2 separate regions of the Homo sapiens genome follow, and region 2 is linked to region 1. A link means that fine-mapping ties the variant in region 1 to the expression of a gene that starts in the linked region. Tissue or cell type: prefrontal cortex. Region 1 holds a variant in brackets; the other region holds the start of a gene. All regions are shown on one strand. Distances are between the middles of the regions.

Region 1 (5,206 bases):
GCCTCCATGTCAGACCTAATGAATCCAAATCTCTCGGCACGTGGGTTTTGATTACTTTTTATTTTTAAGCTCCTCAGCAATGATGGATAGCTTTCTCCCCCCCCCCCCAAAAAAAATGTTTCAGGAATAGGATTATGTTTCTTTTAAGAAAAAATAATTTAAGCAAGTTTTGTAAAAAGCATCAAAGGCTATACCTATGATGCTGACAATATTTCACCTCACTTATCTGCTTCTTTCCCAAGACTTAGTCTTTCTCTTTGAAGGAGCTGTGTTCCTCCTAGTGGTTCTGATCTTTTTCATTGCAGCTGCAGGTACAAACGAGGGATTGAGGTGACCACCCTTCAACCTGCAGCTCTTCAGTCAACAAAAATCAAGTACCTATCAGAGTGCACCCTGCCCTGCAGCACATATTCAAGGCTTTCCCTACAAAAACAAAGGTGTTTAACCGAAGGGATTGATGGTAGAATAAAGAGAGCTGGGCGCGGTGGCTCATGCCTGTAATCCCAGCACTTTGGGAGGCGAGGTGGGCGGATCGCTTGACCCCAGGAATTCGAGACCAGCTTGGGCAACATAGTGGGACACTATCTCTACGGAAGGAGGGAAGTAGGGAAGGAAGGAAGGAAGCAAGGAGGGAAGGAGGGACGGAGGGAAGGAGGGAAGGAAGGAAGGAAAAAGAAAAGAAAGGAAAGAAAGAAAGGAAAGAAAGAAAGAGAAAGATTGATTTTAAAAAAGAGTTAAAAGGGGAAAAATACAATGTGGCAGTGGGAGAATTAAGGATGAGATGATTGCATTAGTTCATTGACCATCCCTGAGCAACAGAAACACAATCATGGGTAATCCTCGGCCCCTGCCTACAAGAAGCATGGGTCTAGTTTAGTAGCACTGCCAACTGGACCGACCATTTACACTTCTGTGTGAAATGGGGCAGAGGGGGGAGAAAAGAGTGCCTGAGCTCACAGCGTTGGCGGGGCGCAGTGAGGTCCGCCAGGACTAGGTGGAAGGAGAGAAGGAACGTCCCTCTCTGCAACTCATCTAAGGGCCTGCTCGGACCCCGGATCTCACAGCGAGAACTACCGCCTCGCTACACCCGCCTTTCCCCGCGCCACCCAACAGCTCCCACGTCTCATCCTCCGGGAGCGGGGCGGGGCGAAGCGGAAGAGGAGGGGCCGACACAACCACGCCCACTAGCCGCGCTCCAAGGCCGCGGCCCACTTACCGCGAGAACGCGGAGTCCTGCGGATGGCGCACGCGCAAACCTCCTGTGATGCCTGCGCCTCCTGGCCCCGCCTTCCGCTCGTGGGAGTTCCGGATGTTTAGCGTTACCATGGATCCTGGAGGTGCCCGCGAACACTGCTTGTCGCCTGGGCAACCGGAGAGGACGAAGCAGGACCTAGGTGGCGGCGGTGGTACCGGCTGCAATGGTGTCCAATCCCGTGCATGGCTTGCCCTTTCTTCCGGGCACGTCCTTTAAGGACTCTACGGTGAGCAGTTATCTGCCAGACTCCCACCTGTCCCCACCTTCCAGCAGCCCAGGAGGTTTCCCCGCTCAGTGCACCTCCATTCCCCTCCACTCAAGTCTGTCTTCTCTCCAAACACGTCTTCTGTCCTGACCCTGTTCTTTATTCTGGGCCGAACTTCTGCCGTTCTTCCCTAGCCATCCTCATCCCCTCTCTCCGATCCTTTGCCCTCCGCCTCATCCCTCTCTAGTTTTTTCCCACTCCATCTTGGCAGTGTGTTGGCGCCTTCATTCTCATCCCGTTAGCCGCGTTCTTTCTTACGGCCCTGCTCCTCCAAGCCCCTGCCTCTTGTCCCTTTAGATCACTGTTTCCCCCACCCTACTCCCAACCTATCTCTGGGCCCTCTCCCTAGCTCGTTCTCTCACATCATAACCTGTCTCCGTCCATCGCCGCCCTTAAAACCCCCCGCCACTATGCACCTTCAACCTCATTCCCACAGGTCCGTCATTCCCGCCCCACCTCTTCCTCTTCTGAATCCTGTACCCGGTAGTATCTCCCACTCCCAGCTCCATTTCCTGTTTTGT[A/C]TGTATATCGATTCCGCTCCTCTTCTTTCCGCCAGGTCTTTTTCCTTTCTTCTTTATGCTTGCATCCAACCCCATTCTTTTTTCTCCATCTTCTACATTTTCCACAATTTAGTCCCATCCTCTCCCCATTCCTTTCTTTCTCCGTTGCGGGTTTTCCCCAAAACTTGCTCACCTTCCTCCCAAAGCATCTTTCCCTGCTTTGTAAGAGATATTCCTTTCCAGTTCCCTCAAGAATTGATTAGTTGCTGTTTATTCTTCCCCGGCCCTGTTCTTTTTATTCTAACGTTTTTGTAAAAAGATTCCTGTTTAGATTTTGTTTTGCTCCTTCCCCAACCTTGTGTTTTTATTTGCATTTTCTAGACAAAATTTTTTAAAAAGTAGCAGCAGCTTGGATTCTTTTTTTTTTTTAAACTCTTGCCACAGTTTAGCTCTTAAAATTATTTGGTTTGTTTTAATTCTGACAGGGCTACTGAAATGTATGTGCTGAAAAATCAATAATGAGATTCAGTAGACTGATCATCATAGATGAGCTAACAGTAGTTTATGTTTATATAGTTTAATACTTTAAACTCTTGCCTTCCTCTCCAGCTTCACAAAGTTAAAATATTTTGTCAATTTATTTTCTTTGGAAGAATCAATTTAGAATGAAATCGAAAGTTTGGTGAGAGAATTTGTATTCTGAATCTCTGTAATTATCCCTGCATTAAGACACAACATCATAGATTTTTAGTTTCAGTGGACTTTTCAGTTTTATGTAATTTAGAAAATGTTGTAGGCACTTGCCTGCCCTATACAGGATGAGCTTAAGCTTTTGGTGTTGGTGAGTATAGACAGGGCTGAGTTGATACAGGGAATTACAGAGGTGTGGATGGAAGTGCAAAGCTCTAAAAACATATTGCTGTATTACAAGTAAGAAGAACTGTGCATTGGACATATTTCAGATTTTAAATACACTGGCCAAGTGTCAACCAATTTGCCCTATTTGAAATTTGAAAAGCATCGTCAGTATATCTTCAGCAGTGAAGGACTGAATATGTATTAATGTAATTCTAAAGACATGCAGATAAGAAGTTAAAAAATTTTTAAAGGGGAGTGGGAAAACGATTTTAAAAAAAGACACACAGAAGGTGAACCATAATGGACAAGAGGGGTGGAAAGGGCCGAGGTTGCCTTGCCTGGGGTGTCTGTGAGTTATGGCTGAATGATGGTAGAGACATTTGTCTAAAACAAAGAAATAAACTGAAGTCACTGATGTTGCTTCTGTCTTTGGTGGTGGAAGAAGAGCTTGAAGTTCCATAAATTACCCAATGAGGATGTCAACTCAGCGCATTTTGTTCTATGTCATGTTTACTATATACCTGGAGCAGTCCCTGTCAACTGACTTGTGACTCTGAATACATGACCTTTAAAAACAAATGTCATACATTTGTTTTTATGGGTTATATACAGTTTATAACCCTTTTAGCAAAAGAAGTTTATTCTGTTGTACCTTTCATGTTAGTACAGATCTTGAAAGATGGTAGGCTGGGCTCTAAAGCAATTAGGATGTAGAAAGTTTTTTTCATAAAAATATTTTTTATGATTAATCTTAAATTGTATCTATGTATATATTTGAATATTATAGATAAGTAATTGTGAAAGTATCCTCACAACAGAAAAAGGAAACCATTAACATAACCTCTAATTTGCCTTTCTACTCTTTTTTATTTAATCTTTTAAATAAAAATGTGTTCATTGTAAAAAATCAACATAATTTAGAAATGTATAATACAGAGGACCAAACCAGTCTCTTCATGCACATATTTCCATGCTTATAATTGCAGTACACATATAATTTTATATGTTGCTTTTTCAGGCTTATTAAATCATAAATATTTTCACCAGGTTGCCACGTGATCTCTAAAATCAATATTTTAATGACAGCACCATAATCCATTGAGTGAGTTTTCGATCATTTACTCATGTCTTCATATGACTGTCTTTTAGATTGTCTTCAACATTTACCATTGTAATGGGCAGCTTCAGGCATATAGTTCTTTCTCATAATTCTGAATCATATTCGTAAATAAATGGTCGGGGTAGAATTATTGAGTTCAAGACTTTAAATATATACCATCCAGTTGCTTTCCAAAGAGTTGTAAGAATGTATCACTGTCATTGTGACAAGAGGGACAGGTAAAAATAAATTCATTCCATGTAAAAATAAAATTCACAGAACCGTATCTTCTAGGTTCTACAGTTTTTACGGCCCCAGATATCAGATGAAAAACATGAGAAGACTAGTGAAAAACTTAAGAGTATAGATGAGATACTCTTTTAATCTCTCATGCAAGGTGAATTGGTAGTTAAATTGGGCATTACAGAGCACAGCTTTAAATTTTACTTTAAGCTTAGGTGGCTACTTCGCTCCTTGTTCTTGTTCAAGTGTTTTAACTTAAAATACAGAATCTTTTAATGTAGGTAAGCTTTTGTTTTGTTTTGTTTTTTTGAGACAGAGTCTCACTGTTGCCCAGGCTGGAGTGCAGTGGTTCAATCATAGCTTATTGCAGCTTGGACCTCCCAGGCTCAAGTGATCCTTCCACCTCAGCCGACTATAATAGGCACAAGCCACCACACCCAGCTAATTTTTTTTTTTTTTTTTTTTTTTTTTTAGTTTTTGTAGAGACAGCATCTTGTTGCCCAGGCTGGTCTCGAACTCTGGGGCTGAAGTGATTCTCCCTCTTCAGCCTCCCAGAGTTCTGGGATTATAGGCACGAGCCACCATGCCCAGCCTTAATGTTGGTAAGCTTCTTGATGTAAGTTTTGTGATGCTTATAAGCAAAGATTCAAGTTATATTTTTAAAAGTTAGTTTTTTTTTTACCTAACAAATATTTGTCTAATGTTATTAATGACACATTCTTTTCTTCTTCAGAAAACAGCCTTCCACAGAAGTCAGACGCTGAGCTACAGGAACGGCTATGCAATTGTTCGACGTCCAACAGTTGGGATAGGCGGAGACCGGCTCCAGTTCAACCAGCTGTCCCAGGCTGAGCTGGATGAGTTGGCCAGTAAGGCACCAGTCTTAACTTATGGCCAACCTAAACAAGCCCCACCTGCGGATTTTATTCCTGCGCATGTGGCCTTTGACAAAAAGGTATCATCTGGAATTTTAGGGTACCCCTTGA
Region 2 (5,117 bases), 59 kb before region 1:
CTCACAGTAGAAAATAAAAGAAGCTAGCTTGAGACCAAGGTAGTTTTAAAAGGCATGAAGGATGAGAACCACCATTCTTATTTAGTGGCTCTGGACAGCGTCACTTGGAAACAGAACTGCCTCATGCACAGATAACAATGCCTGACACCCATTACACTTTACATGCACGTTCACATCTGCCTTTTGGATAAAGGGCAAGAAGAAAGGAACATTTACCATTGAGAAAGAATTAGAAGCCTTGTTAGTCTCCTTTTAAGACTTCTTCACATTCCACATGGATTAACTGTTAGGGAGAAAAACACTGCAAAAATAATCAGCAATGCATTTCGGAGGCTCATCAGCTCCCGGCTGACAGCTCACGTTAGTTGGATGAAGGCTGTGGATAGGCTTTTAGATGTGCTAACCTGTAATTTTGTTTCTAGAGTGGCCCAAAGTGGAAGGAGTTTTCACTCCCTCTCAATAAGCCCTCTTGTACGGTTGTGACCTCTGGCCTATCATAGGTTTTTGACGATAAAGGAGAGCCCGGGTTTTTGAGGTTAAGGGAGAGTTCCCTGACATCTTTGGGGTGAAGAAGAGATGGAGGGAGCAAAGCTGCCAAAGACCTCCTGTGACATTTCCACTAGTATCCACCTATAAGTAAGTGCTGGACTATGATTCCCTGGGGAGATCAGTGGCTCTAAAGACAGGCCCCTGGGCTCTTTCCTGGCTCTGACTCAGCTTCAAACCTGCCGTGCAACTGCTCAGAGTCTAAATGTCTTCATTTATGGAACTGAAATAATCCTGCTAAGATTACTTTCTTTGCTTCGTGATGTTTGCCTGAGAATAAGTAGCTGGGACTACAGGCGTGTGCCACCACGCCCATCTAATTTTTGTATTTTTTGCAGAGACAGGGTCTCACCTTGTTACCCAGGCTGGTCTCGAACTCCTGGGCTTAAGCAATCTGCCCACTTTGGCTTCCCAAAGTTCTGGGATTACAGGTGTGAACCATCACACTCGGCTAAAATGTTTTGAAAAATGGAAACATTGTACAAATGTGAGATGTTGTGCAACATGTCACTGAAACACGGTGGTATAAGAGAAGTTTTGGGAACCAGCAGACCAGAATTAGGCCTGAGAAAATCTTACAGTAAGCAGACCAGAATTAGGCCGTCTGAGAAAATCTTACAGTAAGCAGACCAGAATTAGGCCTGTCTGACAAAATCTTACAGTAAGCAGGCCATCTTCCCAGGCCTTCTCTTTTCTCCAGATAATGAAGAAGGCTTTTTAAAAGCAAAGCCAACTTGATTTGTTAATTGATCATCCAACTTCTTAACTGTCTTTTTCTCATGGTAAAATACCGAGAACATTGTGGGTGAGGAGCAAGTCGGGAGGTGGAACCCACCCCCGCACCCTGCCTCCAATAGATTGTATGTGTGGGTCGCTATTGCTGGGACCCACGAAGGCTGTGGATTGAGGACACAGGGTAGAAGTGGGATCTTCTGCAGGTCAGTGTCAGATGTGTCTGTGTGATGTAGTCATGGGAGAGGCGCGAGTCTTGGGCGGGTGTATCTTAGGGGTGTGGAAGTGTCTGCAAGGGCCTCCGTGGTATGTCATCACATTATTTATATCATGGGCATGACCCTGAACGTTCACCCGAGAGTGGTGAGAGAAAGGCCAGGATTTAAATCAGTCTTGACAGCGCAGATGAAGTTTGTTATTGTTTTCCGCCCTTCCCGAGGGACTTCGGAAATGGCCCCCTGAGAGGTGAATTCTTGGAAAGAATATGAGGGCGGTTAAGGCGTCTCTGTCTCAAACTCTCCGGATTTTTTGCAGCTACCAGGGACTGCGAGGGTCTGCGTCCTGGGTGGAAGGAAGCGGCGTCAGTCAACTTCCTCGCAGCGGCGGCAGCGGCGCGGGCTGCAGCGGAGCGCGCGGGTCTGCGCATCCCGCCCCCGGGTCGGGAAGGGGCGGAGCTGGGCGTCACCCGCCCCCGGCGGTCTCCTCCTCCCGGCCGCTCCCCCGAGCCGAGCCCGCCGCGGTCACAGCCACCCGCGGGAAGCTCGTGGCCGGGACCCCGAGGCGGGAGCGCGGGCTGGGCCGGGCTGGGCTACGCGCACGGGCTCGGCCGCCGCCCCTGCCGGTGAGTCCCGCCGCGGGAGGCGCGGAACGGGTCGAGTTGGGTATTGGGACCGCGAGGTCGGGGAGCCCCGGGGCCCGAGCTCGGGAGGCGGGGACGTCAGGATCGCGGCGTTGGGGAGTCCTCGCACCCCGAGCTCAGAGGGGAGGTCCAGAGTCGCAGCGTTGGGAACCTGAGGCCAGGGGCCGGAGTTTAGGGCCCCGATGTTGAGTCTCCGAATCCAAGCCCGGAAGGGGGGACGACGGGTTAGGATGCTGGGGAGCCCTGGAGCTCTGAACGGCTGTAGTGGGGTGGCCAGGACTGCGATGCTGGGGAGTCATGGAGCCTGAGCCTGGAGAGCTGGCGGGGGTGTGGGGACCGCGATGTTGGGAAGGCTGAGCCCGGAGGGCGGGAGATTCAGGACCAAGACGTGGGGGAGTCCGACAGGGCAGAACGAGGGGCGTCCTGTCCGCATTTGTGGGGCGCCCTCCGCAGGGCGGAGGGGAACGGAACCTGGGAGGGGAGTGCGGAGGAGAGGAAGCCCGGGGCGGTAGGGAGAGCCCGAGGAAGGGCAGCCCGAGGTAGGGGAACCCCGGAAAGAGTAGGGTGGGTCTAGGCATGTGCTTTCGCCGGGGAAAGATGGAGGGGGCTTCTCTGAGAGGGTGGGCGCGAGGAGCGGAGTTGTGATGGGAACCGCCGGCAGCTGGCTAATGGGCGGATGCTGGGGCTTGGCTGGATGGGAACGCCGCGGTGGGGTGTCGGAGGTGGCTGGTGGGGCTGGAACGCTGGGAACGTCTGTCTAGGCTATGAGAACGCAGCGCCCTCGGTGGAACAGGGTCGTAGATAACTCGAGAGGGAATCTAGTCTAGGGAGCAAGACCGGGCATCCCCAGACGGAGGCGGGTGGGGACCTCGCACTCAGCGCGCTTGGGGAATATTCGGAGCCTGGGTTTGGGGGCTGCTGCACCTTGCCGACCCGGTGCGGGGACCTGGAGGTAGCCGGGCACAGCAGCTTCCTGTGCAGCTGTGGGTGCTCCAGGCACTGGCAGACTAGTGGGAAGTCCAGGAGCCTTGGCAGGCTCATTGTCTTGACCTAAGTTGCATTCCATATTTCTTAGCTGGGTTAGAAATGATTTTGTCCAGGAACCCAATGAGAAGAGCCTGGGCTAAAAAAATTAGTTATGGAGTGAGATTTCAAATGTACAGGTAATACCTACCCGTGTGTGTGCGCGCCTTAGGGATAACTCATACAATACACTGTATGTGTGATTTTTAGACCCACGTGTGTACTACTTGTTCCAGTACTCTGAGAAGCTGTTTCTGGGTAAAAACGAGGAAAATCCACAACAAATACACACACCAAACAATGTCCACAAACGCACTGCATTCCAGTCGAGTTAAACATGAGAGTATTGTACAGTTTGGGAGTATTTGCTTGTCAGTGAAGACTCCTGTTACTGAAGTTAATAGGAGTTGCCTGCATGGAAGGTAGACTGCCCTTGACTGCCCTGTTAAGGTTATCCACAACGTGTACCCAGCCCTGAGCTGCTGCACCCTTGACCAGGTCAACTGGAAGGGAGCCAGACTGCTTAGGACCTCAGTGGATGAGTATCCAAGTGTGTATCTAAAAACAAAGGACCAAGGCATGGCTTTGTTTTTGTTTTTGTTTTTTATTTCTGCTGTTTGTCCTTGGGTGCGTGTCCTTCAATTATTAGTTAAATGTTGACTATCTTACATTAACCCATCTTGTATTGTTAATTATGTATGGTAATTATTTCAGTTATTTGGCGTAACAACCAATTCTGGAAGACCCAGAGTAGAGGAATCTTATTAAGTGGATATATCCATTGAAAGATATGTTTTTTTTTTTTTTTTTTTTGCGGGTGTGTGTATGCACCAGATTTCCTTCTGGTGCATATAGGTCCATCTTCTGACACACACTGAGATTTGAGCTTCATTGGATAAACAAGGATTATTTTGGCAACTAGCATTTGTTGGGTCTGTTTTTAATTCATGAAAAGGAAATCTTTAATAATTATGCAAGTTAACAGGATAGAAAGCGATTTATTCATTTTACAAGAATCATTTCAGGATAAGCATATTTCCATTAAGGGTGTGTGTATACCTTATTGAGTGGTCAGGACCTTGCATCAAAATCTGCACTATCATTCCTGCAGCAGTGTACTTATTCACTTGGACGTAACACTTGCTGATGCTTCCAATTCTTTATCCAAATGTTAAAATAAATATGCCAGTATTTATACATTCAAATCAGTATTTCTCCCCTTCAAAAGCCTGCTCTTGGCAAGCTGTGTACTAATTCTAGTGATGCTGTCACTACTGAGAATAATTTTGGAGCTCCTGCTTTGGAGTTGCCTTCCGAGTTTGCAACACATTTCCTGATTGCCTCAGTGGTGGCAAACCTTCCTCAGCTGGGAAACAGCCAGGCACTGTGCGGGGCCAACTTGGGCTTCCGAGGTGGGGAATCGAGGTTGTCAATAAGTATGCTCATTAAAGTAATGAAAATTCTCTTGAAAGACTGGCAGTTCTAAAAGGGGCATTTAGTAATGGCATGGAGTATGTATTTAGGATTGGAAGGAATTACAGTTGGTCCCTGAATAACACCGGGGTTAGGGGCTCCCATCATCTCCACAGTGGAAATTTTGAGTACAACATTTAACTCCTCAAAAACTTAACTACTTTGAAGCACAACCTTCATTTTGGTGTTTATGCTCTGGTATGTATGTAAAGTAATTGGTCCTGTCACTTTATTGTTATAGCTTATGGCTTATTGGGCTAGAAAAAGTAAGCCTTTCTTTGCCCCTCCTGATACTTGTTACTAGGCAGTCTCTGTCATTGTGGATTTTTACAGAAAGCAAAACAAAAATACAAAAGACTTGTTGTCTCACCAAAAAAAAAAAGGTACCCAGAAAGCCATTTGCCCCAGCTGTAGGTAATGCCTGGTGCTTGATTTTTGATGTGAAAGGATCCACAGAAGTAAAGGGAAGAGAATGATTTCTGAA

What was found. PIP is the estimated chance that this variant, and not a neighbour inherited with it, causes the effect.
Region 2: PAQR8 starts here. The variant in region 1 is fine-mapped to the expression of PAQR8 in prefrontal cortex (GTEx, PIP 0.93).

What each region holds. Positions count from the first base shown.
Region 1 is chr6:52,418,993-52,424,198 of GRCh38, forward strand. It overlaps EFHC1 (EF-hand domain containing 1), which reads left to right and starts at 1,350. Exons shown (of 11, transcript NM_018100.4): 1 at 1,350-1,481; 2 at 4,954-5,175. The coding sequence starts at 1,419. LOC124901331 (a long non-coding RNA gene) reads right to left here and starts at 1,989. Exons shown (of 2, transcript XR_007059611.1): 1 at 1,217-1,989. RefSeq lists an enhancer at 1,319-1,910. The variant A/C (reference allele first, on the strand shown) is at 2,042.
Region 2 is chr6:52,360,131-52,365,247 of GRCh38, forward strand. It overlaps PAQR8 (progestin and adipoQ receptor family member 8), which reads left to right and starts at 2,021. Exons shown (of 2, transcript NM_133367.5): 1 at 2,021-2,119. RefSeq lists silencers at 1,425-1,610, 1,784-2,273.